Linked DNA regions of Homo sapiens. The protein of the gene in region 6 purifies or fractionates together with the protein of the main gene of each other region. This does not show direct contact. Each region holds a gene or a part of one and is shown on either strand. Other genes may lie near its edges. The genes, in order: PBXIP1, KLHL22, TMEM131, TOR3A, COL11A1, TMEM87A and HTR1E.

Evidence for each region.
Region 1: the proteins of TMEM87A (region 6) and PBXIP1 purify together in Homo sapiens (co-immunoprecipitation; one large-scale study listed by IntAct). This does not show direct contact.
Region 2: the proteins of TMEM87A (region 6) and KLHL22 purify together in Homo sapiens (co-immunoprecipitation; 2 studies listed by BioGRID and IntAct, with this or other methods). This does not show direct contact.
Region 3: the proteins of TMEM87A (region 6) and TMEM131 purify together in Homo sapiens (affinity purification with mass spectrometry; one large-scale study listed by BioGRID and IntAct). This does not show direct contact.
Region 4: the proteins of TMEM87A (region 6) and TOR3A purify together in Homo sapiens (affinity purification with mass spectrometry; one large-scale study listed by BioGRID and IntAct). This does not show direct contact.
Region 5: the proteins of TMEM87A (region 6) and COL11A1 purify together in Homo sapiens (co-immunoprecipitation; one large-scale study listed by IntAct). This does not show direct contact.
Region 7: the proteins of TMEM87A (region 6) and HTR1E purify together in Homo sapiens (co-immunoprecipitation; one large-scale study listed by IntAct). This does not show direct contact.

Annotation. Positions count from the first base shown.
Region 1 is NC_000001.11:154,946,100-154,949,599, forward strand, and holds part of PBXIP1 (pre-B-cell leukemia transcription factor-interacting protein 1), read right to left. Parts: intron 2,268-3,500; coding exon 2,034-2,267; intron 1,907-2,033; coding exon 1,883-1,906; intron 1,614-1,882; coding exon 1,543-1,613; intron 1,450-1,542; coding exon 1,318-1,449; intron 705-1,317; coding exon 1-704. UniProt on the Homo sapiens protein: Regulator of pre-B-cell leukemia transcription factors (BPXs) function. Inhibits the binding of PBX1-HOX complex to DNA and blocks the transcriptional activity of E2A-PBX1.
Region 2 is NC_000022.11:20,468,296-20,471,795, forward strand, and holds part of KLHL22 (kelch-like protein 22), read right to left. Parts: intron 3,221-3,500; coding exon 3,055-3,220; intron 1-3,054. UniProt on the Homo sapiens protein: Substrate-specific adapter of a BCR (BTB-CUL3-RBX1) E3 ubiquitin ligase complex required for chromosome alignment and localization of PLK1 at kinetochores.
Region 3 is NC_000002.12:97,810,949-97,814,448, reverse strand, and holds part of TMEM131 (transmembrane protein 131 precursor), read left to right. Parts: intron 1-60; coding exon 61-214; intron 215-307; coding exon 308-478; intron 479-1,699; coding exon 1,700-1,810; intron 1,811-1,893; coding exon 1,894-2,028; intron 2,029-3,216; coding exon 3,217-3,321; intron 3,322-3,500.
Region 4 is NC_000001.11:179,088,570-179,092,069, reverse strand, and holds part of TOR3A (torsin-3A precursor), read right to left. Parts: intron 1-3,500.
Region 5 is NC_000001.11:103,102,023-103,105,522, reverse strand, and holds part of COL11A1 (collagen alpha-1(XI) chain isoform A preproprotein), read left to right. Parts: intron 1-3,500. UniProt on the Homo sapiens protein: May play an important role in fibrillogenesis by controlling lateral growth of collagen II fibrils.
Region 6 is NC_000015.10:42,263,434-42,266,933, reverse strand, and holds part of TMEM87A (transmembrane protein 87A isoform 1 precursor), read left to right. Parts: intron 1-2,730; coding exon 2,731-2,844; intron 2,845-3,500. UniProt on the Homo sapiens protein: Potential monoatomic ion channel gated by mechanical force, implicated in normal touch sensitivity through the generation of mechanically activated currents.
Region 7 is NC_000006.12:86,936,203-86,940,327, forward strand, and holds the start of HTR1E (5-hydroxytryptamine receptor 1E), read left to right. Parts: upstream 1-1,325; 5' UTR 1,326-1,621; exon of another isoform or gene 1,622-1,682; intron 1,683-4,125. UniProt on the Homo sapiens protein: G-protein coupled receptor for 5-hydroxytryptamine (serotonin). Also functions as a receptor for various alkaloids and psychoactive substances.

The DNA.
Region 1 (3,500 bases), on a different chromosome or scaffold from region 6:
TCCACCCTTGGCCTGCCCTCCTTCCACCTTCCTGCTGGCTCCCTGTCCTCCTGACCTCCCCAGTTCTTCTTCCTTTCCCGGCCAGATTCTTCCTTCTTATGTTTCCAGTGCTCAGCCTTCCGGTCTCTCTGCCCATCCCACCACTTTTCCTTTCCACTCCACTCCCTAGAATTCTGGAAGTGGGACTTCTGGTGCCAGGCCTTTGAGGCATTGGCAGAGACCCCAGGGTCCTGGCCCCAGTTCTCCAGGCCCTGCAGTTTCTGGGCCAATCTGTGGCCCAGCTCAGCCAAGCCAGCATGAGCTGGGTCCCCGCGGCTGGCATCCTGCAAGCTCCTCTCCAGATCCTGCTGTACAGACCCCAGCAGCCGTCGCTGCCTCTCTAACTCTTGCCTTAATGCCTGTGCCTCAGCCTCCAGCTGTTCCTTCTGCTTCAGGAAGCTGAGTTCTGGCTCCTGCTCCCTGGGGCCTTGCTCCCTGATGGCCTTGTCACCCTGTGGGCCTCTACCCCCACTGAGGCACACCCCATCTGGGCCCCGGACACAGTCGGCCTCCAGCCCCTGGAGCCGGGCCCGCAGCTGCTGCAGCTCTGACTCCAGAGCCCGCTGGAAGGCTTCGCCCTGCTGCAGAGCCCCCCGGAGCTGGGCATTCTCCTCCTCTAGCCCTTTGGGCTGGTGCATCAGGCTCTGAAGCTCTTCCTTTTGGGCCTAGAATATGGTTTGGGACAAAGGAAGTCACAAAGAGTTCTTGTCAGGATAGCCCCAATGCCTTCTACCCCAATTCCATTCTATTATAGTGGGCAGGTGGCCTGAGCCCGTTTTACAGCCTGGAACACCCAGAGGATTTGGTTTTCATCCTCCACCCCATCTCCATCATGAATGAGACACAGGGATCCCCAAATTCCATCCTGAGCCTCGGCATCTACATCTTTATATAAGCACACACTTCCTAGATTCACCTAAGGATAGCCAATGTGTGGCTCTCACAGTCTTATTTCCTGGAACAGTGTTAACTGATCATGGCACCTGGCATGTTCTTTAAATCCTTTTCCACACAGTGCTCCAGGCAGACCACACCAATCAATCACAGGTGATACCATGTATGTTTCATGTACCATGTGGAACAGGTATGCCAGCCCTGGCCCAAACCTTAGCACAAGGGATGTGAACCAAGAACTGGGAAGACGCCCTGACTATAGTGGGAGAGGGGAGGGTCAGGATGTGTGGGTAAATAGGAAACATTCCTTTTGGGGGAGGATGCTAGGACAGACGCCTGGCCTAGGTGGGTTACCCTAGCCCAGCCCCTCCTGCCTGTGCCCACCTGCAGCTGGGCCTGCAGCAGCCGGATGTCCTGGTTCTCCTTGGCCAGCTTGTCCAGCAGAAGACCCATGTTTTGCAGGCTGGGGACACTGTCAGGAGGCACTGGGGCCTGCAGCTGTTCCCTTAGCCCATCCTGAGGGCAGAAGAGCCTGTTATGCCATGCTACCCCACAGCCCAGGTTCTCCCCAGCCAGGCCCCACCTGCCTCTGGAGACATTCACACATACCTGCCTGTCCCCCACAGCTTCCAGCACCTCGGGGTCTGGGAGGACCTGCCGCTCCACTTCCTCCATGGGCCCTGTGGGAAAGGGAAACCCTGAAACTGGTCCTGAGGCACACAGAGCCCATTCTCCCCACACCTTCCCATTCACACAGCCACCACTCCTGCTCAGGACCCACCCTGTGGCTGAGCGGTTTGGTGAGATAAAGGGCCAAGGGGCACCCTGAACAGCTGACAAGGCCACTAACTGAGAAATAAATGTGAGCCCCCAGCACCCCTACTCCTGACCCACAGAACCAGAGAACACATACAACTCCCCAGCACAAGACAGGCTCCTCCCTACTCACCAGTCTCAGACTCTGAGAGGCCACCTAAGGACAGAGACAGAGGAGTCTGATGAGGCCCTCGGGGAGGGGTGATGTGAGGTAAGGTGAGAACATGGCAGGAAGGCAGGCAGGCATGGAAGCCCAAAGCCCCAGCCTCAGAGGTACCACTCACCTGAGAAGAGGAGGACCCCCAGGCCAAGCAGAACCAGGGCCCCAAGGAGGCACATGTTGAGGGAGATGCCCAGCTCCCCGCCTGCACCCTCACCCCCAGCCTGGTTCTCCACAGCCAGGGGCACCATGGGCTGAGGTGGGCCGGCCTCCCGGCCCCGCCGTCTCCGCAGACCCTCCATGTCCACGTCGGTGTCATCGTCACTGCTGGAGCAGCGGCCCTCCTCCCTGATCCAAGCTAGGGGAAAGGACAGGGACAGGGCAGTGAGGTGACTGGAGAGATGGGGAGACACAGGGAGAGAGGGGAATCAGAGGAAGGCACAGGGAGGGAGGTCGTCAGCCCTGACCCCAGAGAGGGGCACATGAAGACCTTGCCCACTTGCCCACTTCTGCCTGGGCATTGATGACTGTCCCTGCCCAGTCTGGAGGCAGGAGACCAGTGCTGTCAATCTACGAGCTATAAAAGCCATTTTCATCCTGAAAGCATCCTCCTTCCTCAGTGTGCGCTGTGCATCAAACTTCTGCAGCTATTACCACCCTCCTGGGTTGCCTCCAAACTCTCTGGCCACTCCTTCCCATTCTCCCTCCCTGGCTCTTCCCTGATCCTAAAGTCAGTGGTCTCCCTGGCACCATTTCAGGTTCTCTGCTCTTCTCACTGTACACATAGTCACAATTCTCTGACCCACACCACTGACACCCCCCTTCAGCAATGAGTCCTTAGTGTGTAACTCCTCACTTGGCCTCCCAGAGCTCCAAGCCTGTATGTCTGACTGCCTGCTGGCCACTCCCTCTGGGACCAAACATTCAACACACTGCTCTGCAAACTGGTTCTTTTCTGGTGTTTCCCCAATTCAGGGGAAGGCACTGCTTCCACCATCTAGCTAACCTAAGCCCTCCCTCTCCACCTCACATCCAGACAGTTTCACAGTTCTACACTTAAACATCTTGACAGTCCACCCCTGTTCACAACCCACACTGTACCTGCCTTAGTTCAGGTCTGCATCTTCTTTCTTTTTTTTTTAATATTTATTTATTTTTATTTATTTTTATTTTTTGAGACAGGGTCTGGCTCTGTCGTCCAGGCTGGAGTGCAGTGGCACGATCACAACTCACTGTAACCTCCACCTCCCAGGCTCAAGCGATCCTCCCACCTCAGCCTCCTGAGTAGCTGAGACTATAGGCATGCATCATTACACCCGGCTAATTTGTGTGTGTGTGTGTGTATTTTTTTGTAAAGACGGGGTTTTGCCATGTTTCCCAGGCTGGTCTCAAACTCCTGAGCTCAAGTGATCCACCTGCCTGGAACACCCAGAGGATTTGGTTTTCATCCTCCACCCCATCTCCATCATGAATGAGACACAGGGATCCCCAAATTCCATCCTGAGCCTCGGCATCTACATCTTTATATAAGCACACACTTCCTAGATTCACCTAAGGATAGCCAATGTGTGGCTCTCACAGTCTTGTTTCC
Region 2 (3,500 bases), on a different chromosome or scaffold from region 6:
AGCAGCTCCTTGAGAGGACCCTGCTGACTCTCCTTTCAGTCCTATTTTTAGAGCAGTGGGCCTTCTGTTCAGTGAAATCTCACAGAGGAACCAGCCTGGGCTCAGGATGTGCAAAAGCCCCATACGAGGCTCACAGAAGGGACTGCATTTGCTTGGGGTAACCCAATAGGACAGTGTTACTGGGAATCAGACTCAGGCCTCTGGGGACACCGTGAAGAATCTGGTCCCAGGCCTACTGCAGGGCACAACACATGGGGGAAGCCTCCAAAAGTCACTAGCTATGTGAACATACATGATTCTACAGGCCTATGGACTTGACATGGTTATGCCAAGTAAAACCTGCTATAAAACAATATTGTGAAGAAGCCTGTTTTTTTTTGTTTGTTTGTTTTTTGTTTTGAGATAAGCTGGCATGTAGTGGTGTGGTGATCACAGCTTACTGAAGCCTCCACCTCCTGGGCTCAAGTGATTCTCCCACCTCAGCCTCCCGAGTAGCTGGAACTACAGGTGCATGCCACCATGCCCGGCTATTTTTAAAGTGCTTCTGTAGAGGTCTCGCTTTGTTGCCCAGGCTGATCTCAAACTCCTGGCCTCAAGCAATCCTCTCACCTTGGCCTCCAAAAGTGCTGGGATTACAGGCATGAACCTCCAAGCCTGGCCCAGAAGCCTGATATGTTAAAAAACTAAGATAGGCTGCTGCCTCTGAGATGACCTCTGAGGCACTGGGGGAGATGACCCAGGGCTGTCGGGAGCACTGGCCAAACCAACAGAGAGAGACTGCAGGCCTCCAAGCTGACTGGTGAGAGAGGGAAAGTGATGTTAGAAAGATGATCTGGTTTCAGTGTGTGTGATCACTGCAGGGAGAAGAAAGAAATGGCAGAAACATACAGATGGAGGCCAGGCAAAAGGGAAGGAAATGGAAACACAGAACAGAGATGGCTACAAGCAATACCGAGAAGGATGACCTGTCCTCACATGGACGCAGGGAATTAAGAAGGTGGACGGGCTCAAGGAGCCACTGAGGTTGAGCCCAGGGAACTGGCAGGATGGTCACAGGACACACAGAGCAGGGGGACTGACAGGGGAGCTCCGGGAGAGTGGCAGGTGTGGAGGAGGAGATAGGACAGCTGGACCTGAGCCATGCTGGGGGAGATGTTTCAGAGGCAGCTGAATCAGGAGTTAACTGCTGCCAGGGTGGAGAATTGGATGAGGGTTCCCAAAGCAACAATGACAGGGATGTGGGGACAGAAGAGATCTCTAAATAAAAGAACAGGGGGAAATTCTTTTGTTGTAAAAGCCAACTCCATCTACTCACCATGCAGGTATGGTGAGACAAGTCAGTCATCTCAGATCAACCCACCCAGCATCCAGGTCCTATCCACCAATCTGAGAACAGGGCACAGGGAGGCTGCCAGGGCCCTGTCACATGGGGTGGCACCTCCACATGCCCCCGAACAGGTTGGTTTTCCTGTGACTTGAGTTGTTTTTTTTTAATTGCGTCAAACCTGCTCTCATGGGAAGAAAGGTCAGAATGATGAACTTAGCATAGCATTTTGTTTCACTTTTAAGAAATGTGGGAAGAGGTGACTGTCAACTCCTATCAGGCCTCTGCCTGATAGCTCAAAGGCACCTGCAGGCCCAGTCCCGTGTAACTGCACCCACACCACTGAGAATAATCATCCAAAACATAAGTCACACTGTCAAAGCCTCAGAAAACTTTTTGAATTCTGCAGGAAAACAAGTACTTAAAGTTCAATAACAGGTTGGGTACAGAGGCTCACACCTGTAATCCCAGAACTTTGGGAAGCCAAGGTGGGAGTATCACCTGAGGCCAGGAGCTTGAGACCAGCCTGGGCAACATAACAAGGCCCCATTCCTATAAAAAAATATATATATATATAATATCAGCTAGGCACAATGGCACGCATCTTTAGTCCCAGCTACTCAGAAGGCTGAGGCGGGAGGACCACTTGAGCCTAGGAGGTGGAGGCTACAGTGAACTATGATCATGCCATTGCATTACAGCCTGGGTAACAGAGTGAGACCCTGTCTTTAAAAAAAAAAAAAAAATAGGCCAGGCGCAGTGGCTCACACCTGTAATCGCAACACTTTGGAAGGCTGAGGTGGATCACTTGAGGCCAGGGGTTCAAGACTAGCCTAAGCAACAAAGCAAGCCTCTATCTCTATAAAAATAATTTAAAAATTAGCCAGGTGTAGTGGCACATGCCTATAGGTCCTAGCTATTTGGGAGGCTGAGGCAGAAGGATTGCTGGAGCCCAGGAGGTTGAGGCTGCAGTGAGCTGTGATCGTGCCACTGCACTCCAGCCTGGGCAAGAGAGAGAGAGCTTGTCTCCAATAAATTGAATGAGTGGATGGATGGATGGGTGGATGGATGGATGGATGGATGGATGGATGGATGCATGCATGGATGGATGGATGGATGGATGGATGCCTGCCACCATGGATGGATGCATGCATGGATGGATGGATAGATGGATGGATGGATGGATGGATGGATGGATGGATGGATGGATGCATGCATGCATGGATGGATGGATGGATGCGTGCATGCATGGATGGATGGATGGATGGACAGACAAATAGATAGATAAAGTTCAGTAACAAAACACATAAGTTTTCAAGAGACTGAAGTGGCCCAGTGAGGGGACAGGCAGGAAGGGCCCTGGCAGCAATGCTGGTGGATGCTCCCCATTGCCAGACCCCAGAGCACACAGGACGTCCACATGCAGCCTCGGGTCAGCCTACCTGCTTATGTGCAGGATGCTTTCAATGACAGGGAGACTCAGACAGTGGGGAAACAACCAGCAATAGAGAAGAGGGCAAAGGCAGAGGCCTGGGGTGTCTAGAGCGGCTCTGCTTGAGCTCCAGGAACAACTCCAGAGTCTTCCCCACTTCATGGCCTTCGTCACTGCTTGGTCTCCTCACATTCCTGACCCATCTTCAAGCCAATGCTAGTGCCCGGCAGGCATCATGGGCATCTCAGGGAACCCCACCTGGGTGTGGGTCTGCCTTGCTAGATGAGACATGCCTCACCTGAAGCTGGCAGGCAGCCACCAGTGTCTCTTGTACATTGCTCAGGCTGAGCTCCAGCTCGGAGGTGTATATGAAATGTAGGATTTGGCACATAGCATTGTAGGACACACCGTGGATCAGGACCTCTTCCTGTTCCATCTCCTTCAATCCCCCAGCAAACATTCCTCTGCAAAGTGAAGACACAAGAAAATGGAGTTATACCAACAGGGACTTAAGCCCATGTTGCCAAGAGTGACAGCATTCAGAGAAGAACCTGGCGCTGGTGGCAGGGCCCTGGTAGTGGGCTGACCCACTCTGTGCTCTGAGTGAACTGTGTGCATGCATGAGCCATCCCACAAAAGGATCCTGACGAAGTCTGGGCAGCCATCCTGGAAATTGTCCTGTTTCCCTTTTCATGGGCCCAAGGAGTCCCATGTGAGCTTCGGGAGGTGAGGCCACAAGCAGCT
Region 3 (3,500 bases), on a different chromosome or scaffold from region 6:
TTTAAATTAACACATGGAAATAAAAATGATTTATTTTGTTCTTGTTGTTTTTTTTAATAGTTATTTGGGATTTGATCATGCTGCAACATTATTTCACATCCGAGACAGCCCTGCTGATCCTGTGGAAAGGCCAATTTACCTTACTAACACTTTCAGTTTTGCGATCCTCATTCACGATGTGTTGCTACCAGAAGAAGCCAAAACAATGTTTAAAGTATGTCCAGGAGCCCTCATACTTTTAATTTTCCTGGTCTACCAACTAGGTGATGCTGACACTTTGTTTTTTTTCTCTTCTGTCATTTCTCAGGTTCACAACTTCAGCAAACCAGTCTTAATTCTTCCTAATGAATCAGGATACATTTTTACCCTGCTTTTTATGCCTTCCACATCATCCATGCACATTGATAACAACATTTTACTTATTACCAATGCTTCTAAATTTCATTTACCCGTGCGGGTATACACAGGCTTTTTAGATGTAAGTATATTATCCATCTTTAACATTTAAACTCCCTGCCCACCTTTAATGTTTTCAGATCTTATTAGGCAGTCGTGTTACATACGGTTTGCCATTATTTGTGCTCTGCAAATTGATCTAATTCTCCTAGTCAGTTTTTACCTTTCCAGGTAACTAGTTTTTACCTTTTCTGGCAGCTCTCTCTTGTGATACAGTTGACTTCTCTAGTTACAGTCTCTACTTAGATCTTTTCCACATTCTGCTTTCTCTTGGATATGCTTTTAAACTATTGTAATAATGGGGAATATAGAAAAGAACTAAATAGAAAAATGATAGGTAGAAAAAGAATAATACAAGGAAGGTGAAGAGGGATATACGTAGGGAAGAGATGATCAAAACCAAGAAATATCGGGACAAAGAAGAGAATCAGATAGTAAAGAAGAAAATAAGGTAGTAAAGACGCAAAGTTGGAAGATTATATATGACACAGAAGGAAACAATGAAGGTACTCCTGGTACAGAAAATAAGCAGGGGGAAAAATTCCAAACAAAGCTATCTTGAGAGTGATCAATGAAAGAAGCTTAGATAAGAGAGAAAACTGTTAGGAAAGATAAAAAGAAAGCTAGGACATCTAGAAATGTAGCCCTTTAAATAGTTGGCATCGATTAGAATTTTAGAGCTGGAGGGACCTTCAGTAATGTCTCGCTCCTGCTTCAGTTATTTTGTTTCAGTGATCATTGGTGATGCTTGCTGAGACCACATGCTTTTTGCCCGATCCCCTAGGGTTCCACTAAACCTCTCTTAGTAGTTTAGCTTCCTGCCTCTTTCATGTGCCCTCAGAGGAAGAATAGCAACTCAGCAGAAGCCATGGCTGTTTTCATTTCTGATTACTCAAAAGACTTTCGTCATACAAAGCCCTCAACTATGTCGTATAAATGTGTGGTTTTATGCATATATACAAAAGCATAGGAAAGCATAGAACTGTAATTTTTTTTTTTTTTAGATGGAGTCTCGCTGTGTTTCCCAAGCTGGAGTGCAGTGGTGCAATCTTGGCTTGCGGGTTCAAGCGATTCTCCTGCCTGAGCTCAGCCTTCCGAGTAGCTGGGATTATAGGTGCACACCACCATGCCCAGCTAATTTTGGGGGGAACTTTAATACATCTTTAATATAGTTACTTTCTCTTCATAATATTGTTAGATCAATGTGACTTTTTTTTAATCTGGTTCTTTTATATCTTTCCAGTACTTTGTATTGCCCCCCAAAATAGAGGAACGTTTCATAGATTTTGGAGTACTGAGTGCTACAGAAGCAAGTAATATTTTATTTGCAATTATAAACAGCAATCCAATTGAGGTAAAAACCTGTTTTTATTCTAAATCACATTTAAGGATTTTATGCTTGTGTTGTGATAATCATTTTCATATCTTTTTTTAAAGTTGGCTATAAAAAGTTGGCATATCATAGGAGACGGTTTATCAATAGAACTTGTAGCTGTGGAAAGAGGCAATAGAACTACAATAATTTCAAGCCTGCCAGAGTTTGAAAAATCCTCTTTATCAGATCAATCATCGGTAAGTAAACTTTCTATTGTCTCCTTAAAGTAAGATGGATGTCTAAACTGCAAGTGGAAGATCATTGCTATGCTACATGTATCACTATTATTTTTATGCAGTTCATAATAGTGTTGGTTACTTGCTATTAAAAGGACCTTATAGGTAATGTAATTCAACCCCCTATTTTTATGATGAGGGCACTGAAACCCAAAGGGGTTTAATTCTGCCTTGTCATAAAAAGTTCTATAACACACAAATTTTTAATTATCTTTTTGTAACACAAGTGTCATTACAGGAGAGATTCCCATGGGTACTAAACTAACCTTGTGTTCATTGAGTTTACTGGGAAAAAGAGATGGCCCTGAACATTGGTAGAAAATATTTTCAATTATGCAATAATACGTCTGTCCAGATACTGCCTCAGTATCAGTGAGGCAAACATTGTTTGATCACTGTGAGTCTGCCCACATATTTTTACCTGTCTAATAAACATGTTACAGTTGGTTGTCAGAGAGCGCTAAACAAGAGAAAACAAATTTATTAGTTTCAGCACTCACCAGTACTGAAAGGGGAACTTGGAGTTTATACCTACTGGGAAAAGAATTAGAATCACAATCTGTGAGAAGGAGCATCAGATAATCTCATCTGCAGGTTAGAATAGAATTTCTTGGGGCAGTTTTACAAAAGGAAAAGCAAGTGTCCTTATACACAGAGAGTGTTGACAAACACGTTTCCGTGGAATGCCATAGGTCTGGTGTTTTGTTATATCTGACCTCAGCTGCCCTGAAGATATGAATATTAACATTACAGAGTGACATCCACAGCTTGAAGCAGAGCCAGCTGTGTATACAATTGTGGCTCCAGTGTGCCTGAAAGGTTGGTGGAAGGCTGTGTCCCTCTGCTCCAGCCCCTTTGGCCATACAGGTCCATGGGTAAAGAGTGAGGAGCTTTATTAGCAAGAGGACCACACCCCTCCCTCTTTCAGGAACCAGCTTTTTCAGTGGCCCATGGAACAAGTGTAGTAGAGAAATATCAAGGGATGGACACTATTTTGAGATATTTGTACACAGTGATATGGTAATTCAGTGTCATACTGGTATATGTTAGGATTTGTTAGTCATTTTATCGCTACACCCTTCATGTCCATTTTAATAGGAAACTTCAACTAACAAGGCTAATGAATGATACCATTTCTACTATCTACAGGTAACATTAGCTTCAGGCTATTTTGCAGTCTTCAGAGTCAAACTTACTGCAAAAAAATTAGAGGGGATTCATGATGGAGCCATCCAGATCACAACAGACTATGAGGTAAGGACTTTATGGGGATTCATGGCAGTGGGGTTTTTCTGAATAAGTCAGTCCTTTCTTGTCTTTATGAAACCAAAGAATTAAGTTTACTCAGAGTTACAGTTTACCAGTTTCATACCTTAAAAACTGAGCTTTCGAGAATAGTTTATAGAATATTGATGTTCATAGGCTCATAGTTT
Region 4 (3,500 bases), on a different chromosome or scaffold from region 6:
TTCACTGCCAGAATTTACCAGGGGCTGAGAGCTCCCAGCTGGAGGAGCCCGGCAGGAACAAGGGCCATCTGCAGTGCTTGCTCAAGGTCAGTTGCTCAGCCAGGCTTTCCCCGGGGAAGCTGCTCACACCACTCTTCCACTTTCTGACACTGCCCCTGCTGCAGGAAGGCCTTCCAGGCACATGATCTGTGCACACAGGAGCAGCCACAGTTGCATCAGCTGAGGCAAGACCCTGCTGCCAGGGCATTGCCCCATCCTGCATTCCCCACAGGAGGCAGGCAGCACTGTTTACCTTGGCAGGGGCTGGAAGGCAGGATCCAGGGTGCTGTGAAACCCCACAGAGTGATACTCCCTCACCCCATCCTAGGGGCATGGACTCCAGGGCCTTCTCCATTCTGTAAGGTGCTTACATGGGTAAAGAGAGGTCCCATCACATAGGGCAGGAAGCTTGGCCTGTTTATTTCTGTAACCCCAGTGCTATGTGCGTATCAGGCACTCAGCCTTTAGTAAATAAAGGGACATCTCTGCACATGTGTCTGCACCATCTCCACCCTTCTCAATCTCTCCTGTTTTGTCCCATAGCCAAAGTCCCTTTTCTTCCACCACTTTAGAGGCTTTAATCTCACCCACTGACCCATAACCTGGGGCCCCTCTCTACGCGCCGCCCCTCCCATCTTCAGGACCACCACTCTGGCACCAGCGTTCTACCTTTAGACAGACACTGTCTTTCTGGAGCACCTCAATTCCCTTCCACAGCCTCCCAGCTCATCTGCTGACCTGGATCGCTGGGAAGTCTGGAGGGGCCAGAGGGCACCTCTCTCAACCAGCCCTCATCCCCCGTCTCCAGCCCCTGCCAGGGCTGATCTCACCAGCCCTTATCCCTAAGACCCCAAAGGAAGGGGACTTCAGGCCTCACCAGAGAACTGGTTGTTACTGGTAACAAACCCCATGCTAACTGCTACATCTTTCCTAAAGAACAGACATAGACTCAGTCATCTCTTTGAGCCTTAGTGTTCTCATTTATAAAGTCAGGACTGGACCAATCTAAGCTGTCCTCTCATTAGTCAACAGGCAGCCAACAGACACTGGGGGCTGGAGCGCAAGGCCCACCACGACTCCACAAATAATTTCTATTTGTGTAGTTCTGTAATTTTTCAAAGTCCTTTCTATCCTTTTCCTGACAACAGCACAAAGGAAACAGGCTTTAATTACCCTTGTCACTTTACAGCTCCCATGAGAACAGGGCAGCAGCTCCGATCGCAGAGTTCCACGTTCCTGTCCTGCCACGTGAGCCCATTCCTGCAGCCTTCTATACTTGGCAGAAGTGGGCGAAGTAATGTTACTTTCCTGGTGCCCAGTCACCGGCCCCAATTCCCTGGCCCGGATGAAGGACAGGCTCTGAGCACCACACTCAACTCCCTGCTTCAGCTCCCACCTCCTCTCTCCTGCCACCAGGAGGAAGCCAGCAAAGCCACTGGCAACTCACTTCAAACAGCAGGTTTAGGATTTATTTCAGAATTAAACTGCTGCTCTTCCTTCGTGCAGTATGACTTGGTCACTCTAGCAGTTTGAATCAGCTGTGCTTTTCTTTCATGCCCTAGAATCCTTATTACAGTGGATGATTAACTGAAGCTCATTATAGAAATCAAGTCCAGAGACTCCAATATCAACAGTGTGTCTCCTCCCAGCCATCGCTGGACTACCTGAGAACTTGAGGTTGAGAGGCTGCTGCCCTGGACAGCCTGGGCACAGACTATGTCAGCCCAGCCCTCGGCTGGAGGGGGGAACCTCTGGCTCGTAAAGGCTGGGCACAGGCCCACACCAGAGCCACTAGAACCTAAGGCCACATCTTTTTAATGTGTCCTTTACATCCTTGTCAAAGGCTCCTGGGGGACCTCCCCACCCTGCTGTGGCATGGAGGAGTCTGGCAGGCGGCTTTCCCGCAGGCCCCCCCCCCCACCCCGCCCACAACCACATGGCCTCGGACAGTCCACCCAGGCTGGGTCACTGGGGGAAAGGACAGGCAGCTGGAGGGTGGTGCTGTCAGGTCGACGGCCAAAATACTACAAAGGCTATAACATTTGCCTGGAGACTGCAGGGTCACCGGGTCACGTTAGGCAATCACGGCCCAGGTGAGGTTTTCCAAGCTGAGAAGTGGGTGGGAGAGTCTGTGTGGCCGGCACCACCTGAAGCCGGGAGACCCCTGTCTCGGGGAGAGGGAGGAGGAAGACACTCAGCGCAAGGGAGATCCCTGTGGAAGCGAAAGGGAGGCCCGAGGCTGGGTCACCATGCTTTGCTCCGTGCCGTGGGAAGGACTGGCTTCCGCATCGGTGGTTCAGAGGGTCCCCTGGACTGCCCGACCCAGGGCTCAGGTGGAGAAACCACAGAGCACCCAGGTGACTCCTCTGTTCAGGCTCATCTGCATGTTGCAGCCCCCACCTGACTCTCTGTAACAGGAGGAGAGGTGAGCCCGGCTGCCTCCGAAGGTGGGAAATAGTACAGAACGTGGGAATAAGAACTAACTGGAAGAATGTATTGTCCTCACCTCCTGGTTCTGGGCACCCAAATCATGCAAGAGATCTCTCTCTCCTCTTAAAAATCACCCTGGGCGCCCCACTCCCCTCCCACTTCGCAATGCATTTTAAGTCTCCACAGCTTCACCTGCAGACCAGGAAGGGCTTCCCGCCACTACACAGAAATCCCAACCCAGCAACGGCTTAAACCTGTTTCACTTTTTTTTTTTTTTTTGAGATGGAGTCTCTCTCTTGTTGCCCAGGCGGGAGTGCAATGGTGTGATCTCAGCTCACTGCAACCTCTGCCTCCCAGGTTCAAGTGATTCTCCTGCCTCAGCCTCCCGAGTAGCTGGGATTACAGGCACCTGCCACCACACCCAGCTAATTTTTGTATTTTTAGTAGACAGGCCACTGCGCCTGGACCCTGTTTCACTTCCTCTTGTGAATCCACACCGAAACTAGATCTGCCCTCCACAGCTCAACCCTTCACCCCTCCACACTCCCCAAGCTAGGATGAAAATCAGCATCCCCTCACCAACTTCCCCATCCTCACAAAGTGAGCCCTGCAGCTTGGGAAACCCCCCCAGCAAGCAAGTGCTGGCCTGGGGAAGGCGAGGCCGGAGTGGAGTTGGGAAGGGAGCACTCAGTTTGACTCCTACCGAGGCTCGAGCTGTTGTGAAGCCTTCAAATTGGGTCAACAAGGGCCCAAACTTGACTTGTAACAGACACAGGACTCCCCCAGTTGGAGCCTCCGCAAAAAGATGAGGTTGGACAAGTTATTTCTAAGTTGGCTTCACGCAAAGATGTCAGTGAAAGCACAGGAACCTCAGTGCAGTGATTCAGTGACTGGGTCCCGCATGGTAGCGTCACAACTGAACTACAGGTACTCAGAGGAAGCATGGGTTTCTCAACCCGTATACCCTGGATTTTAAGCCAGTGATGACTTCTCATAATCGGAGAAGAAACAGACTTCCAAGGCTGAAGGAA
Region 5 (3,500 bases), on a different chromosome or scaffold from region 6:
CAAAGTTAGACTCTAAAGAAAATAATATAGAGAAATTTCTTGGAAGTGAATGGATTAAAGAAAATTTATGACTTCATACCTAGTCATATTATTTTACTTTGAAAAATCAAACTATAACTTGGAAATATTTATTATACTCATTAAAAATCAATCCTTGCTGTGATTTAGAATAACAAGGTTAAGTGTGATTTTTATAAATATTTATTTACATTAACTTCAATTTTATGTTTCATATATATGTTTATTTTTAAAGTAAATGATGTATCTCAGCGATTTATTGATATTCTTTGGCAGTTAGTCCATTACTTACTATTCACAGGAGGTGGGGTTTACCTGGAATTCATAGTGACCACACTATGATTATCTTAAGATAGATGAGTTTATGTAAGGGTTTTAAGTAAGAGTTAGACTTAGCTATAATGAAGCACTAAAAAAAAAAAATCTAATTGAATCACTTTTTACTAATTAAAATTACATTTAACCTTTGGCAGTTAAGCCAATACTGTATCTTGTAAAAGGCTGATCAAACTGGGAACTTTGGAAGCTTGTCAGGAATCGATAGTGAGCCCTGAAGAAGTGTAGTTTTGAGTGCCCAGGATCAGCAGGTGAAATGGTCCTGGCTTCCAGAGTATGTGCTAGTCCAACAGTGCAAAGAGATCGAATTTGTCCATTTGGTTCCTTAATCAGAAATCAGAAACTCAGATATGCTTCTGATAAGAAATGCAGTGTTTGCTAAACTCATTAATATTATGTCTTTCCATTTGTTTTTTAAATTCAAAATTGATCAGGACTATAATAGAGAAAGAATATAGACTAAAGAGAAACACCTTTCTGCATGCTTTACACACATAGCTTCAGTTTAGGTGGCACAGATTCTTTTACCTAGTTGTCCATTAGTTTTGAAATTAAGTTTCTTAATATCTTAAAGTGACAATTTGCTTCATAATTAATACTTAACTGAGGGGATACTTTATAGAAGTTATTCTCTAAAAGGTATTTGTATAGTTTTAAACAAAGTTATGCAGTAGCAAAGTGAGAAATGTATTTGCATAACATAATTGGTAAAAAATTAATATTTTTTCGGTTTTTTATTTTCTTCAATTTGTGACTAAAATAGAACCACATGGTTGTTCATGTTAAGTTATCCTTAAAATACAGCAAAGCAAACATCTCTTTTCAAATTTATGGGTTGGCTTTCTAGCTAAGAAAATTGTATAAAGAGTCACCTTTCTTTTCTAAAAATTTGCTTTTTCCTAGGATAAATTCTCTTCACTCTGATTAATTTAGTGAGATGCTGGCTATTTCATGATAACAAGGATTTAAATCAAGTTTGGTTGAGAGTCTCTGTGTAATACAAGCTGAATTTTTAAAAGGTTAAAAAAAGGTGTTTATATAAGATTTTTAAAAGAGAATGCTAGCACTAGAAATTATAGAAATTGCTAATCAATCTTACCTTCTCAATAAATGAGGAAACTAAGACACAAAAAGTTGTCAGCTGAATACTCTTCCTCATAAAAAATATTCTTGTAATATTCAAGGTTTTTCTGAGTAGAGTGAAGATCTGTAATGGTGATCAAAAGAATTTTAAATAATAGAAGTCTGAGACAATGGAATGAGAGGAGAGAACTTAGTAGTGCAAGTTCTAATTAAAGTTTTATTTTGGATTGTCAAAACACCTGAAACTAATGTAAGTACCTTTTAGCTCAGGAAAAAATTGACATTTAATTTATGGGAAGTACTCACTCTCAATGGACTACCATGATATCTGTTGTGCAATCAACAACTATTACAAATTTAATTACCATATGTGAAATTACAAGGAAGTAAAAGAGAAAGAATTCGATATATTATCGCTATATTTATTTCCAGAAGTCTGAAATTATTAGACCATATATTTGCTAGAGTTTAGATTAGTGAGAAGGTAGATATAGTGAAAATGTCTTATATAAAGAAATTTAAATAGAAAATAGTTACAGAATGAATTTTTTAAATACTCTATTTACTACCTTTGAAGAAAGGTAATTTTTGATCATTTGTATTCTTAATTATGTCATTTTATAAGATTACATCAAAGTAGAAGGCGTAATACTCTATTCATTGCTGGATTAAGAACATAGTTTTGTATGCTCTCTAAAGTTGTTAATAGAAGACTAGGTCCAACTTTGAATTTCTAAGAAGCTTAGAAAATTATATATTTATTTCAAATAAAAAATGGCAAATTTCTGATATTTTCAGGTTAATTTCAATTGATTGGATGACATATATTTTATGTATACATATAGTATGACTTTTATTAATGTCAGATAATCATTATGACACACTTGTGTGTTGTTTGTTTAACAGTTTTTTTTTAAACAAGTGGCAAACTGAAGAAAAAAATAGGAGAGAACGTAGTAGTGCAAATTCTAATAAAGGTTTTTATTTTGGATTGTCAAAGTATCTGAAATTACATAAGTATCTGTTAGCTTAGGCATAAATGGGCAGTTAATGTATAGGAAGTAGTCACTCTTAGTAGGCTACCATGATATCTGTTGTGTTGTCAACAACTATTACAAATTTAATTACCACATGTGAAATTGCAGGGATGTAAGGGAGGAAAATTTTGATTTTCTATCTCAAAATTTATTTCTAGAAGTCCAGTCTTCAACTAGTATTCCCACCAAATTAAGAGTCTTTCTGTTTTTAGGGAAAAGCAATACATGGCCATAGGGTCCTGAAGATTATACTGTGAAAGCATTTATCATGAGTTTTTATACTCACAATTAACTATACCATTTTATGTAAATATGGAGTTTAAAAAATGCTGAGATATCTCCATCATTGTATACAATTTTTAATGATTATGTTTAGGTATTTAAAAGCCAGAATTTTATTAGATACACTTTTATTTTCTCCTTACTTTTGGAGAAGTAATCAAGCATGGATGGCGTGATCATTAGGAATTCAAGGCAACTGCAAGTGGGGACTGAGCGTTGGTCAGCATTTCTGCTTTTACTCCTTCACTTCCCTCATGTAATACTGGGGAAATGTGACCTGAGTTGGGAGTGGTGAGAGGAAACCAAACTTTTTCTTTTTTGACCATTCAAGTTTTGTTCCTTAGCAAAGAAGAGAGATAAACGCTGATGTTATAAAAAGTTGCAATGTTCCCTAAGTTCTTTCACTAAAGAGTCAACTTTAAATGCAGTTTTCAGTGTAGCTTTCAGTATACACTAACGCACTTTCTACATGAGGACATATTCCTTCTAAATTCTCTTGCAATTTAATTCAAAACCTAAAGGTATTTTTTTTCCATTTTAAAATACTTTCTGTTTTAGAATGCATCTAATGTATTTCTTTCTCCTTCCTTCAAAACCCTAATATGGTTTTATTGATATAGGTAAGTGTATTCTTTTATATGTTCACTTGTGTCAGAACTCAACATGAATAATACTAGCTTGTAGCAAAGATGAAAGACAATTTTAAAGTGATTTAGTGAGTAATATCTATTTATCAGTTGCAGT
Region 6 (3,500 bases):
GTAATGGTAGTTTTTCAGTCATTCTTTCAAGTAAATATGGTGTTTCGTGGAAAAAATGATTAGTTTAACTCACAAGTCAAAGCAATTGCAGAGTGCTTTATCTCAAGACAATAATTTATTGTATTTTGCATGCTTTCCATTTTGTCACCTAGATTATTTAAAAAGTCAGGTACTCAAAAGGTCCAGATTTAATAACATTAATAATTTTTACTGCTTTATCTAGGATATTCTTACATAAAAGTGGCATTTTTAAAAACTGCCAGTTTGTGACTATGAAGAATATGACTGCTAGTAGAATTAAATGCCACTGCCTTAGTTCCTGATAAGGGGCAACAGTTTTACCCACTATTGCTTTTGTAATATCGTTACAAGTCAAATAGCATACTATTATTATTATGAAAATAGTTTTTTTTTTTTTGAGATGGAGTCTCACTCTGTCACCCAGGCTGGAGTGCAGTGGCGCGATCTCAGCTCACCACAACCTCTGCCTCCTGGGTTCAAGTGATTGTCCAGCCTCAGCCTCCCAAGTAGCTGGGATTACAGGTGTCTGCCACCACACCCGGCTAATTTTTGTATTTTTAGTAAAGATGGGGTTTTGCCATGTTGGCCAGGCTGGTCTCAAACTCCTGACCTCAGGTGATCCACCTGCCTCAGTCTCCCAAAGTGCTGGGATTACAGGCGTGAGCCATTGTGCCCAGCCATGAAAATAGTTTTGTCTATGGTTCAACGGCCACACTTTTGAGAATTGCCATAATCTAGAATACTTGAGCGTTGAAAATATATTGCTCAAAGAATAAAGCTGGAAGCATCACATTACCTGACTTCAAACTGTACTACAGGGCTACAGTAACCAAAACAGACACAAAGACCAATGAAACAGAGAAGACAGCCCAGAAATAAGGCCGCACACCTACAACCATCTGATATTTAACAAAGCTGACAAAAAACAAGCAATGGGGAAAGGACTCCCTATTTAGTAGATAGTGTTGCGGTAGCGTGCTGGCCATATGCAGATTGAAACTGGACCCCTTCCTCACACCATATTCAAAAATCAACTCAAGATAGATTAAAGACTTAAATGTAAAACCCAAAACTATAAAAACCCTGGAAGACAACCTAGGCAATACCATTCTGGACATGGGAAGTGGCAAAGATTTCATGATGAAGATGCCAAAAGCAATTGCGCCAAAAGCAATTGCAACAAAAGCAAAAATTGACAAATGGGATCTAATTAAGTTTAAGAGCTTCTGCACAGCAAAAGAAACTATCAATAGAGTAGACAGCCTACAGAATGGGAGAAAATATTTGCAAACTATGCATCCAACAAAGGTCTAATATCCAGCCTCTATAAGGAACTTAAACAAATTTATATGCAAAAAACAACCCCATAGAAAAGTGGGTAAAGGACATGAACAGACACTTTTCAAAAGAAGATATACAGCCAACAAGCATATGAAAAAAAAAAAGCTCAGTATCGTTGATTATTAGAGAAATGCAAATCAAAACCACAATGAGATACCATCTCACATCAGAATGGCTATTATGAGAAAGTCAAAGGATAATAGATGCTGGCAAGGTTGTGGAGAAAAGGGAATGCTTATACATTGTTAGTGGGAGTGTAAATTAGTTCAACCACTGTGGAAAGCACTGTGGCAATTCCTCAAAGAGCTAAAAACAGAATTACCATTTGACCCAGCAATCCCATTACTGGGTATATATCCAAAGTAATATAAATCATTCTACCGTAAAGACATATGCACATATATGTTCACTGCAGCACTGTTTACAATAGCAAAGACATGGAATCAACCTAAATGCCCATCAATGGTAAACTGGATAAATGTGGTACATATGCGGCCATAAAAAAGAATGTGATACATATGCAACCATAAAAAAGAATGAGATCATTTCCTTTGCAAGAACACAGAAGGAGCTGGAGGCCATTAACCTTAGCAAACTAACACAGGAACAGAAAGCGAAATACCACGTTTTCACTTATAAGTGGGAGCTGAATGATGAGAACACATGATCACAAAGAGGGGAACGGCAGACACTGGGCCTACTTGAGGGTGGAGGGTGGGAGGAGGGAGAGGATCAGAAAAAATAACTCTTGAGTACTAGGCAGTACCTGGGTGATGAAATAATCTGTAAAACAGTTCCCTGTGAGTTCAGTTTACCTATATAACAAAGTTGCGTATGTATACCGGAACCTAAAATAAAAGTTAAAAAAAAAATATATATATATATATACACACACATATATATAGTTCTGAGTTGAATTTTTCAGACCTTTTCCATTCTGTTTCTATCTCTCAATTTGCATTTTTAAGAAGATTATCCTAGTTCTGTGCTTGCAACAATTTTCTGCTCTATCTTAGCTTATGAGCATGAATATTTTTTTGTTGATGTTGTTAATTTGGTCAAGTAAATCTTTTAAGTATATTTTAATGTGACAAAACCCTCTACACTCTGGCAGTTTCCCAGTCTACTCAGAATTGTTAGTAGAACTATGCCTTGTGAGCCAAAGACTAGAGTCTAATAGTCCTTGAGTCTGATAGTGTTTGATTCTTAGATATTTTTATATAGAGCCTTTATCTGATGCTGTTCATTTTTAAAATAGCAAACTCAAAATTGTATCTGTACTGCAGGTGAACTGTTTGTTGTGCTGTGCTCTTAGTATCTTATTTTTTGGAAGGTGAGTTAACTACTCTGTATTATCTCTTTTTCCAGGCAGAAGAAGTAGAGTTGTATTTGGAAAAACTTAAGGAAAAAAGAGGCTTGTCTGGGAAATATCAAACATCATCAAAATTGTTCCAGAACTGCAGTGAACTCTTTAAAACACAGGTAATCTTTGAAAGTGATTGGAGATAAATAGAATAGGCAAAAATTGGAATGTATATATTTTTGGCTGTATCCACTTCCGACTTCTCAAGTATTTCTTTTGGCAGAAGTAAGTGGAAGCATGTTCTGATAGGTACATAGTCAGCCACTTATACATACTCATCAAAGAGAGGTTGTACTTTGCTTTGTGTGTAAAAAGCAAACCCCCATTTTTTTATTGTGGTAAAATATACACTACATAAAATTTACCATTTTAACCATTTCTAAGTGTATAATACAGTGGCATTAAATATATTCACATTGCTGTGCAGCCATCGACCCATCTCCAGTACTTTTTTTTTCCCCAAGGCAGATTCTTGCTCTGTCCGCCAGGCTGGAGTGCAGTGGCACAATCTCGGCTCACTGCAGTCTCCATCACCCGGATCTAAGCAATTCTTTCACCTCAGCCTCCCAAGTGGCTAGGGCTACAGATTCACACCATTACGCCTGGCTAATTTTTTTTGTATTTTCTGTAGAGACAGGATTTCACCATGTTAGCCAGGCTGGTCTTGAACTCTTGACCTGAAGTGATCCACCCACCTTGGCCTCCCAAAATGCTGGGATTACAGGTGTGAGCCACCGGGCTGAGCCCCATCTCTAGTACTTTTATCATCCCAAAC
Region 7 (4,125 bases), on a different chromosome or scaffold from region 6:
GAGAGGCGCTCTAGAAGGCAGGAGAAGGGCACACAGGCTCGCTTTTTGAACTGAAGAAGGGTTTCATTTGGTTTAGAATTGTCAAACTTCAAAAAATAAATAAATAACTTAAAGTGTTTTTCAAATCAGCCATAAGGCTACAAACCAGAAAGAAAAGTGTGAGGCAGGTGTTTGGGGCAGCTACCCAAGTTGCCTACATGGTTTCCAAGGTCCTTTCAACTCTAAGGTTTGTGTATCAGGCTGTCTACAGATCATACTGTCTCCATAAGATTGTCTAGTTCATTTTATGGCTAGTTTGAACAATCTGATTTTCTTTTTTACAATGGCAGGGGCTCAATCCATGTTAGGCTTCAATGTTGAGTCACCCAAGTTCTCCACAGAGAATAACCAACCAGCCGTAAGGAAGCTTCTTTTAGCAATGCCAGGATTCTGCAAAGTCCCTCCCAGCTTAACTTTTCTGACCTTGCGGCAGCAGAACAACAAAAAGAACAGCCCCTGGCACCCTCAGAAGAGCACAAAGCCCTCTGACAACCTGAGATGGCGCCCAGGTAGACTTCCCTCAAAAAAAAAAAAAATGGCAAGGCTGCTTCAGCAGGTCTTTCAGCCCCAACCACTCCACTCTCCGTCTCCTTTTCTTCACTGCTTTCCCCACCTCTCTTCCCCCCTTCCACTTTGACCCACCCCAATTTTCGTCCACTTCTCCCTCACCCCTTCCTTGTAATCTCTCTCCTTGAGGCATCCTGTGGATGTTGACTGTAATCTCCCCTGGAGGAGGGCTAAGAAATGCACCTCCAGAGGGTCTGTTTGCCATTGGAACCGCGTAGAGAAAGCGTGCAAACCCGTCAACTGCTCCCGCCGTTCCTCTCCCTCCTCAACCCAGGCTCGCTACAGAAGAAGGGAGTAGGGTCTGCCCCCTTGTTGTATCTATTTTCCCCTTCTCCGCCAGGGCTGTGGCCGGCAAGGGGCTCAGGAGGTGAGTCCCTTGCCCACACCTCCAACCCCGCTGGCCCGGTTTATAACATGGACAGCCCTGCCCTCTAGTGTCTGCAACCGGGAGCCCTAAGGCGCCATCAGCTCCAGAATTTCTCTTTTATAACCTAAGCAAGACCTGGAGTACCTCGGAGCTGCGACCTCCAGTTCACAATACCACCTGCCTCACACCCGGGCTCATCTTTTCATCCCACACCCACCACCCCCCTCTCCGTTCACGGTGTCCCGGGAGGCTGCGACCTGCGTAGATGATTTAGCAGACTGCCCCTGCCCATGCTCCTGCTCCTGCTCCTCCTCCTCCTCTTCCCCGCTCTCTCCCTCTCGCCTCCTCTTCCAGTCCAGGCGCCCAGACTCGGCGAAGCGCAGCGCCTGCCACCAGCGGTGCCTCGGGCTGCCCGGCGCGCCGCGCTCCCAGGTTCTGTCTCGCCGCACCCCGGCGGGCACTGGCGCGGGCAAGGACGCTGGCGGGGAGAACGCCCTGGGCTCAACGTACTCCAGAATCGAATGTTGAGAGAAGCAGTGCTCTGATCCAGCTCAGGAGAAAAAGGAGCGGGTTCCGAGTGAGACTTCTGGAGCCAGCTGGACGTGCCGGTTTGCCCAGTGCGGCGCGGCTGCACGCACCGTCCACAAGGTGAGGGGCGCACACCTTCCGGGACGACCTTGGCTTCCCTTCTTACCCCCACCCACTCCAGGTACTCCAGCTCTGGCTTGGGGATGTTTGCCAGCTTTGAGGCGCAAAGGCGGCGGGAGTTGGGATGCGGGGTGTCGGAGGGAGACTGAGGGTCGCCCGGGCACCGTGCCTGCACCCTGGATTATAGTACAGAGAGCATTTCTTGTTCAAACAATTCCTCAAATGTGTGAACCTGAGAATCAACATTGTGTATAACTGTGGTTTGAGCATTTCATCCTGCTTCCTTGCAAAAGGATTAGAGGCAGCTTAAAGATTAAATAGGTATGGAACGGGTGCTGGGGGGGGCCAGGGAAAACTTGAGTAGAAATCACAGGGAGGTGGTGTGCTCCAGGGACCCCGGAAGAACTGTGTGATTTCAAAGCCAGCTGATTAAAAAACCTTTGATTAGAAAGGACTGCACTGTTGCTCCAGCCCTCAGAAAATAATACTGTGCTCAGTCCTGATAAACAAAATGCCCAGGTGTGGAGGTAATGAGGCAGGCTCATTTTTTTTAAAATACAAAATAAATCTTGGAAGTAAGAGTTAAGATGAGAAGTTTGGTCTTAAGCCATCTCCACCCAATACTGCAAGGTGAGAGGCTGACCCCCTACCTAACGAAAAGGAAAGGAAATTGAGTCTAAAGGGAAGTGATTCCAGCTCCTATCACAGGATCATAGTGGTTTTGCATCTATATGTATATTTCTGCCTGTGCCCAGTTTTGGAAGAAAGGACCTTGTATTCAACCCAACGCTGCTTGTCCTTGAGTTAGAAGGATAAGGCAGATGGTGTCAGCATCCCAAGGTGTTTCTTCCTAACCTTTCTTATTGTCCTTCCTTGCCTCCTGCACCAAATCTCTTGGGGAGGGAGCAGCCCAGGAGGAAATAATAGATCGTCAAATGGGTTGGGGGAGCAGTGTTTTTTCCAAAATAATTTAGGCTCATTTTATCATTCTTATGTTTTCCCTCAAAGCTCTAAGCAGTACATCGTCCTAAGCTGAATTTAACATTGCTCCAGAATATATATTTATCATAGTTGTACATTCAGACACAATATGCATAACCTTAAACAGCCAGGATGCACTTGTGAATCAGGGGCTTCCCTTACTTAATCCTGCGCAAGAGAGGCAAAGCAGGCACGTGGGTCTGATTCCCTGTGCGGTCTCCTTCATGAGGAGCATATGTGAAATACCTTTGAAATACAGAGAAGATTGAGACAGCTTTTCTCTTTCTGGTACAGTTGCTTTCCTGCTGAATTAAATGAGATGACCCTGTCTTCAACAAATAAATGAATGGAGGCATTTGAGGCCCATTTAACAAATGCACAAAATATGCCTGCCTCTGTTTTTCCTCCCTTCAGAGCTTTAGCCTCCAGCCCACGGAGTTGTGATGATGAAGCCCACCTCCTAAGTGGGACTCAGCTCAGTTTCTGTATCATATTTAAAACAGAGTATGTTGCTTATTTCTAAAATTGCATAGCACCTCACCACTAACTATTTTGCTGCATAGAGGTATTTCATCACTAAGAGAGCTATATAGAGAAACTCACTCAAATCCTGATTCATCATTGTTGATAGAACTTAACTATTGTGTCATCATCACCTGACATGGGCTGCAGAAGCTCCAAGGATTGCTATAGATCTCAATTGAGACTTCTAGTAACAGAGCTAGAAAGGAGCCTTTTAAAGTGTAGCCATGACTCTGGTCATTAGGTATATGCATGTTCAAATATTCCCTTACGTGCTTGTTTTCGCTTTCATAACAATTTCCAGGGATGAAAACTTAGCAGATTATTTTTATAATGAAGAGTATTCAAATTAACAATGTGTATCCACCAGCTAACAAGTTTTAAATTCCACAGAAATCAGCATCACAAGCATAGTAAAATCAAGTTTTCATTCTTTCCTCTTCTGCCATAATGACTTCATTCAAGGCCTAGTCCCAGACCAAGTGCATGGAAACGATGGCTCATGTCTCTCAACATTTGCCCAAGGGAATGGTGCCTACCTTGCAACTCAGCGTGATGTCACCTTTATTAGCCATTCTGGTGTCTATACAAAATATTTGCTCCCCATTTCTTCTTATCGATGCCTGGTCAGCAACAATCATGTAAATAAGTTTCCATTCTTTTGAGGAAGATAACGAAGTCAGCGTTTTTCAGAAGTGGTGCCTAGGAAGAGACAAAATCCAGGACACACCTCTAGTTCAGGTAACACTGCAATATATTTCAATTTCCTGCTGCGTGATGGGGTTATTATTGAAGAGGGAAGTAAGGTATATCATTCACAGCACATTGTCCCCACCTGGCTCAAGCACCACCCATTCCCCAGGTGGGCTCAATATGCTACCCCCACCACCACCAAGATACCAAGGCTGCAAATGAAAAGTAGATCTCAGCCAGGCATGATGGGTCACACCTGTAATTCCAACACTTTAGGAGGCCAAGGCAGGAGGATCACATGAGCCCAT